Homo sapiens: one gene and its partner. The protein of the gene in region 1 interacts with the protein of each later gene in a pairwise test. Each region holds a gene or a part of one and is shown in the gene's direction. Other genes may lie near its edges.

Evidence for each region.
Region 2: the proteins of SREK1 (region 1) and DGKD interact in a two-hybrid assay, tested with the Homo sapiens proteins (one study listed by BioGRID).

The regions. Positions count from the first base shown.
Region 1 is NC_000005.10:66,147,154-66,151,070, forward strand, and holds part of SREK1 (splicing regulatory glutamine/lysine-rich protein 1), read left to right. Parts: intron 1-3,917. UniProt on the Homo sapiens protein: Participates in the regulation of alternative splicing by modulating the activity of other splice facors. Inhibits the splicing activity of SFRS1, SFRS2 and SFRS6. Augments the splicing activity of SFRS3.
Region 2 is NC_000002.12:233,469,337-233,472,758, forward strand, and holds the end of DGKD (diacylglycerol kinase delta), read left to right. Parts: intron 1-34; coding exon 35-124; coding exon of another isoform or gene 125-174; 3' UTR 175-2,762; downstream 2,763-3,422.

The DNA.
Region 1 (3,917 bases):
TCTTTTAAACGTTAAGAATTTTTTAAGGCTAGGGAATTCTTGTGAACATTCACTGTAAGCATTAAGAATTCTTATTTGTAGTTTGTCATCCTTTTTTTGTGCTGCCAGTTGATAAATATGTAGAATTACTATTAACTTTTTGCACAATAAATCAATCTCACAGCTTGTGAAACTTTCTTACACAAGTAAGAAATCCTTGTTGTTTTTTCAGTAAATTTTTCATTGAGGTTTAATGTACCTACAGAGAAGTGCACAGGTCGTAAGCGCAGGTTGATGAATCTTTACAAAGTAAACATACCTATATAACCAGCACACAGTCAGGATTATCTGCACCCTGTAAGTTCCCCGTGACCCCCTTCAAGTAACTAAAACCTGAAGGGTAAGCCTACCCTGATTTGTAACACTAGACATTTTTCCTGTGTTGATTTTTTTTGCTTGTTGATTTCCGTCACTTCTCTGGTCTTCTAAAGTTCTAAGAAAGAATGGAAAAATCTGTCAACTACTTAAGTTTATTTAGTTAAAAAAAATGTAACCACTAAAGCCACTTTATAGAAAATAGAGAAAAGGAAACAGCACTTGTGATCCCACCACTCTATCAAAGCTTCTCTCCATTTCCCTGTAGTCCTTTTCACATGCGTTAATAAATATTGGACATATTACCTCATTGGTTTTAAAAATAATTGTATAGTGCTATCATTATGTAATATATGTAATATAGCGTAATCAAAGGAATCACACTGTTATTTTACTTTTTTCACTTTGTCATAAGCATTTTCCATATTGCTGTCTTATTTATAGTAATATTTAGAGATTAGTAATTTCTGAGTGTATTGTGTGTTTTTGAAATTCTATTGTTGGATATTTTGATTGCTTTTTTTGGTATTACAAATTAGTGGATTTTAGCTAGAAATTGGGAGGTGTGTCTTTTTGATTGTCAACAATGATTAGAGGGCCTGTTGGCATTTAGTGGGTAAATGTTAGCAACTTATAAGTAGTCTTAAACAGGATGAATTGTGCTAATCCATAGGGCCACTGAAGCCCAGTGAAGAAACCCTGTTATAAATAATGCACCAACTAATATTTTTGTACATGATACTGTATGCTTCGCTCATGTTTTGGCATATCTTTTTTGGTAGGTCCTCTGTCCTCTAAAGGATGTGTATTAATGTACTGATAAAATACTGGACATATTATTACCTCATTGGTTTTAAAAATATTGTATAGTGCTATCATTATGTTTAATAAAAGACAAAATAACCAGTTAGGGCCAAGAAATTTAATTGATGCCCAAAAAGTTGGTTCTTTGGTTTCTGCGTGTACTACCCACTGAAAAGTTTTAATTTTTTTTGAAAAATTGATAAGATTTTGTATTTTAAAAAACCAAAACTTTAAGTCAACGAATGAGGTCAAACTAAAATCTGCTAAATTTGGGTACTGCTATTTTCTTCTTAAAATTTATTTCTAAAATTTTATTTATTTATTTAGTTAAGTAGAGACAGGATTTCACCATGTTGCGCAGGCTGGACTCAAACTCCTGGGCTTAAGCAGTCCGCCTGCTTTGGCATCCTAAAGTGCTGGGGTGACAGATGTGAGCCACTGTGCCTGGCCTGCTAGTTTCTATAGATGCATACATTTAGACCAAATGGAATATGTCATCCCTTTTTATGTGTTTTTTTTTCCCCCAAGGTCTTCTTCTGTTGCCCAGGCTGGTCTTGAACTCTTGGGCACAAGCAAGTACACATTTGTTTGATGAGCTATCTGTTTGTTGGCTTGCTACTCTAATAATTTTAGTTTATAATGGTCAAAATAAAATAGTGTTACCTTGCCTGAAATTTTCAAATATTTGCATTTTTATAAAGTAAATGTAAGTTGGTCTTTATTTTAAGGAAGGTAATTGGAAATGAAGATTAAGAAAATTGGCCGGGTGCAGTGGCCCACGCCTGTAATCCCAGCGCTTTGGGAAGCCGAGGCAGGCGGATCACGAGGTCAGGAGTTCGAGACCTGTCTGGCCAACATAGTGAAATCTTGTTTCTACTAAAAATACAAAAAATTAGCTGGGTGTGGTGGTGTGCACCTGTTATCCCAGCTACTTGGGAGGCGGCAGGAGAATCGCATGAACCCGGGAGGCGGAGGTTGCAGTGAGCCGGGATCCCGCCATTGCACTCCAGCTCGGGTGACAGTGTGAAACTCTGTCTCAAAAAAAAAAGGAAAAGAAAAGAAAAGAAAATTGCTTAAATCAGTGGAGTAGCCGTACCTAATATCCATACTTCCATGATGATGCTGTTCAGAACAGACCAACATTTTTTTAACCAGTTCCCAGGCTTCTGAAATGTTGGTGGCATGTCTTCAGATGTAGTTGCATTACAAACCAGACTCAGAATTCCTATTCCTGTGGATGTTTTAAGTTTGAAATGAAGTAGATTTCAACTAGGGGTATTTGGAAATGTGGTTTTAGTTTTCAGTAGTGCTTACTTAACATTTACATTCCTTCACAAAAGGATCCGTCAGTTTAGGAAATGTTGCTTCAGAGATGACTGTCAGGCTCTTGAAGATTTCAGAGGCAAAAGAGTTATTCCTGTTGGAATTGCTAGGGCTTTAGTAGGTTATTATAATCACAGATTGTTTTTGGTTAAAAAGGACAGAAACAGTGTTACCCAAGGTACATCGAGAAGAGACATTATTATTAAAAAGAAAGATTTCACTGCGTTGAAAAATAAAGATTGTAGTACAGCCAGGCCTCATGGGAACTAGTACTGGGAACCAGAAGGGTATCAGCAATCAAGATGACTATCTGCTTCTTTCTCTGCAGTGGTTATTATCAGTTCAGTTTGTTTCTATCTACTCCATTTCTTTGCATACCTATTATGTACTCATCATCTGGCTTACAGCTTGCTGTAAGTCACCTTCCAGCCCAATAGAGAGAACCTGATTGATTGATCTAGCTCATTTGGTCGAGCCTGACTTCCAAAATTAGAGGTTGCTGGTCAGCCAGGGAAATGGGCCCTTGAGACTGGTGACTAATCATTTATGGCTAGAGAAGCTTATAGGATCTTTTGAGGGTTTCACATGAGGAAACCGTGCTAAGGCCTGTGCCAAAGCAATATAGAATGTCTTGGTAGCACATGTAGGAGGCTGTACCTAATGATTGCGGTATCTTAAGATGGTTTACCAGAAGACTTGGAAATTTGAGCCTTGAAGAAGAGTGGAATTAGCATTCAAAATGGGAGTTAGCGAGGACATCGTAACCAAATGGAACAGCATATATGAAGACCCATATGTTTGTGATGTGTTGCTGGAACCACAGGTATCATTTTTGGGTGCATTTCCATGACGAGGCAAGAACAGAATAGTACCTTTAAGGAAATTTGATATGTGGAGTGACACAATGAAATTTAGTGTTTAGAAAGATCACTGTGGGAGCTTTGGTGGAAGACCATTAATAAGGATTTGAGGTTGGGTGCTGTGTGATTTCTTAAAAGCTGTTAAGTAATCCACATGAGAAATGATGAGGGTCTGAATTAAGGCATTGGTAATGAGAATGATGAAAAAACTAATGTGACAAATATTTACAAGGTACTCTAAGCAGGATATATTGACCAATTGGATGAGGACAGAAAGGTCAAGGATAATTTATCAGTTAGAATAAGTAGAGTTTTGGAAATAACTTCAGATCTTTGTAGTTTGACAATTTTTTTTTTCTTTTTTGAGACACAGTCTCACTCTCTTGCCCAGGCTGGAGTGCAGTGGTGTGATCTCGGCTCACTGCAAACTCTGCCTCCCGGGTTCAAGCAATTCTTGTGCCTCAGCCTCCCAAGTAGCTGGGATTACAGGTGTGTGGCACCACACCCAGCTAATTTTTGTATTTTTAGTAGAGATGGGGTTTCATCATGTTGGCTAGACTGGTCTCAAACTCCTGA
Region 2 (3,422 bases), on another chromosome or scaffold:
CTCGGCATCCATGGCGGTGTCTTCTCTGTTGCAGGACCTGGGCGTGACCAAGGTGGGCCACATGAAGAGGATCCTGTGTGGCATCAAGGAGCTGAGCCGCAGCGCCCCCGCCGTCGAGGCCTAGCCTCTGTCCTCTCAGCCTGTGGCCTCCACATCCCCGCCGCCGAGGCCTAGCCTCCGCCCTCTCAGCCTGTGGCCTCTGCGCCTCCTGCCACTGAGGCCCTGGGCAGATGCTGCAGCCCGCCCCCTTCTCATGGTGCTACTTCCTCTGTCAGCTACAGAAAGCCTCCGTGACACCGTCCACCAGAGCTCTGGGGTCTCGAACATAACAACACAGCTACCTTTGAAACAACACTTTCTCCAGCTCAGAGTCACCTGGGGCACATGTGTCACGGCCACTCAGCTCTCGCCCGCCTGTGCTGTGGGCCAGGGAATCCAGCGGCGTCTGGCCTCCTGGGCACTGCTTGCCTGGCCTCGTGCTTGGATTGTCCCGGGGGCTCCTCTCCGTGTGTCCTTCTGTGGCCGCACCGTGTGGCTCCGCCTCCTGGCCCCCAGCCAGTTCTCAGAAACGTGGCTGGGGCCCAGCACAGCAGCCTGCAAGGGCCCCTGTTTGTTGATGCAGCTTTTGTTGAACAAAAATCGTGCTCTTTCCTGGTTTGAAAGTAGCATGGATGTTTCCAGTCTTGTTGATTGTAATTTGACGTGAAGAGAAAAAAAAATTCCTCCTGCGTGAGCCAAGGCAGCGGGTGCTGTTTCCCAGGCGGGGAGCCCCTCCCTGGGTGTCACAGGGCCTGTGCTCCTCCCTCCTCCATCCTCTCTCCTCCCGCTCCTCCCTCCCCCCACTGTGGGCTGGGGACGCCTGCCCTTCTGTCTCCGGACGCTCTAGGCGAGTTCAGCTTGGGGTGTGAGTGAGACAGCTTGCCAGCTGCATCCCTGCAGACAGAGGATGTGTGTCCACATGAGTGTTTCTGTGTGGGAAATGCTTCCTGGCTCTGGGAAACTTTTTCTGCCCATTCTGTGGTTCCCAGGGAGCGTGGCCCTGGTGGGCCAGGGGTGGTTTGACCTCTTCAGCCCGTCCGGTGGCCTGGAGGCCGGAGGCTCTCCTGAGTGTCTGCCCCTGCAGTGGCTTCTTGTCGCCTGCTGCTGGGCGTGATGTCGCTGGAGGTGCTGGCAGGGACTCTGATTTGGTGGTCCGCGCTGCCCCTGCCCTGCCTCTGTCCTGGCTCTGAACTAGTAGATGATGGTGCCAGAGGGCAGGGAGCTCGCCTGGGGAGAGGGCTGTGCCCCGTAGGGACAGTGCCCAGGTGAAGGATGCCCCTGGTCCTCCAGGGCACTGACTTTGCCCTTTTTTCCCGTTGATAGTCATGGCTCAGAGGTGCTTGTAAATGTCTTGGGAAGAGGTTTCTGTAACCCCTGCCCTGGTGTGAGGAGGAAATGGCTCTGGCCTGGCTGCCTGGCCGTGGCTTCTCTTTGGCTCCCAAAGAGAAGGACAGTGTTGGGAGTATCTGCCGTGGCTTCTCTTTGGCTCCCAAAGAGAAGGACAGTGTTGGGAGTATCTGCCGGCGCTGTCCAGGTCCTTTAGTCAGCGTCACTCCATCTGATGTGCAGAAGCTGGGCTGCACCTGCGGGGGTGGGCATAGACCGGGCTGGGTCTGCAGCAGCCCCTGGTCCTGAGCAGGCGGCAGTGAACAGCACTGGCCCACCTCCCACTCACAGCCCCTCTGTCCCCTCTGCAGTGCACCCAGGTGGGCCCCTCTGCGTGCCTTTGGGTGCTCCCCTCTCGTGGTCGTTCTGGCCCGAGGCCCTTAGAGTATGGAGGCTGAGCCAGGCCTTGGGTTTCCCCAGCACAGCCTCCTGTCGCTGCATGCGACGTGTTGGGATTTTTGGATGAAAGACTCTCCCACGCTCTGTTGGTGGACTTAGCTGCCTCACTGGAAGTGATGTGGGTGGAAGGTGGTTGTATGTTACCTTTTCCACCTCTCATTGTTTTCCCCAGAACATTGTAGATGGGGGTTGGCAGAGGGAGAAATAAGCCAGCCACGGCAGTCGCTTGGTTTCCCAGGTGGAATGGGCTAACACAGGAGATGATGGGAACCTGTCCCGCAGTCCCTGCATGACCATTGGCCCTGCTGGCCTGGCGATGTGGGCATCCTGGGGTTCTTAGGGTCCCAGAACAAGCCCCAGGCAAGCTGGAACTTGGGTGGGGAGGGGACATGAGGAGGATAAACAGCTGACTGTGGCTTCAAGGACATCAGGGCCACCCCAAGTCCTCAGTGTCCTACTCCTGGCAAGGAGTTGGGTTTGGATCAAAAGTGTTTAAAATTAATATGTTGTCAGTGATTAGAACAACACTGTTTACATAAAAACCATTTTTCTAATTCTAACAAGTTAGAATGTGAGGAAGGAATGAACATGAGTGTTTAGGAACCTGCCCTTTGGTGCTGGGCTGGCGTCCCGCACTGGGGTGTCCTCGCTGTCTGGGGGCTGCTCTGCTGCCCCGGCCCAGGTCCCCTTGTGGTGTTGCCAGACGGGCCTCATGGTCTGCTGTGCAGAGAGAGGCAGGAAGGATCCCTGAAGAGTCTTGGAGAAAAGGTTCTGTGCCCTCAGGTGGGGCTTACCCCCTCGTATTTATAATCTTAATTTATATAGTGACCACCGTGGAAACAAACGCCTCTTGTATTGTCATGTACATAGTCCATACCTGAGTGCTGTACATAAGTTGTTCTGTGTATAAATAAAACAAGCCTGTTTTTGATCTTCCATCGCCAGAGTCTTTGTCATCATTCCTTGTGCTTTGACATAAAGTGTTGGTTGCCGGAATCTTTCCAAACTGGATTCAGAATTGTTTTTCACCTGCTCTGAAAATAGGTTGAGTTGTTGGTGGCTAAAAAGCAAAACAGAATGCCATTAGCATGCCATCAGAATGCCGTTAGAATGCCATTAGAATGCTGTTGTATTTTTTAGGGTGTGGGTTCTGTGATCAGTTGGACTAAAAATTCCGCAAGGAGAGAGAGGGTACTGGGCAGTGCTGAGGCTCTCAGGTGTGACCACACAGCCTTGGCCCGGGAGAATGAGGGCCATTTTAACGAATATTTTAACCCTCTTAAATCTTTTCTATAAAACTGCAAACCTGAAGCTCTCCGACTTCTCTGCTTTGTCTTGGTACTTTTATTTCCAAGGGAACTGTCTACGATCAAGGCCACTTGAATTGTCTTCCCCAGTTTCCTGGAGTGAGGGATGGGGACTGCATTCATGGAAGACACCATCAGGCTGGTCGGGTACAGAAGGGCTGCATGTGCTCCGGGAGTGTTGGCTGCCTCCCTAGCAGCTCTTCCTCACTCCTTCCATGGTAACAAACCCCCCCGTTTTTTTTTTTCTGGTGTATATTCTCCTCTCTGGCCATTCAGGACTTCAGGCCTCAT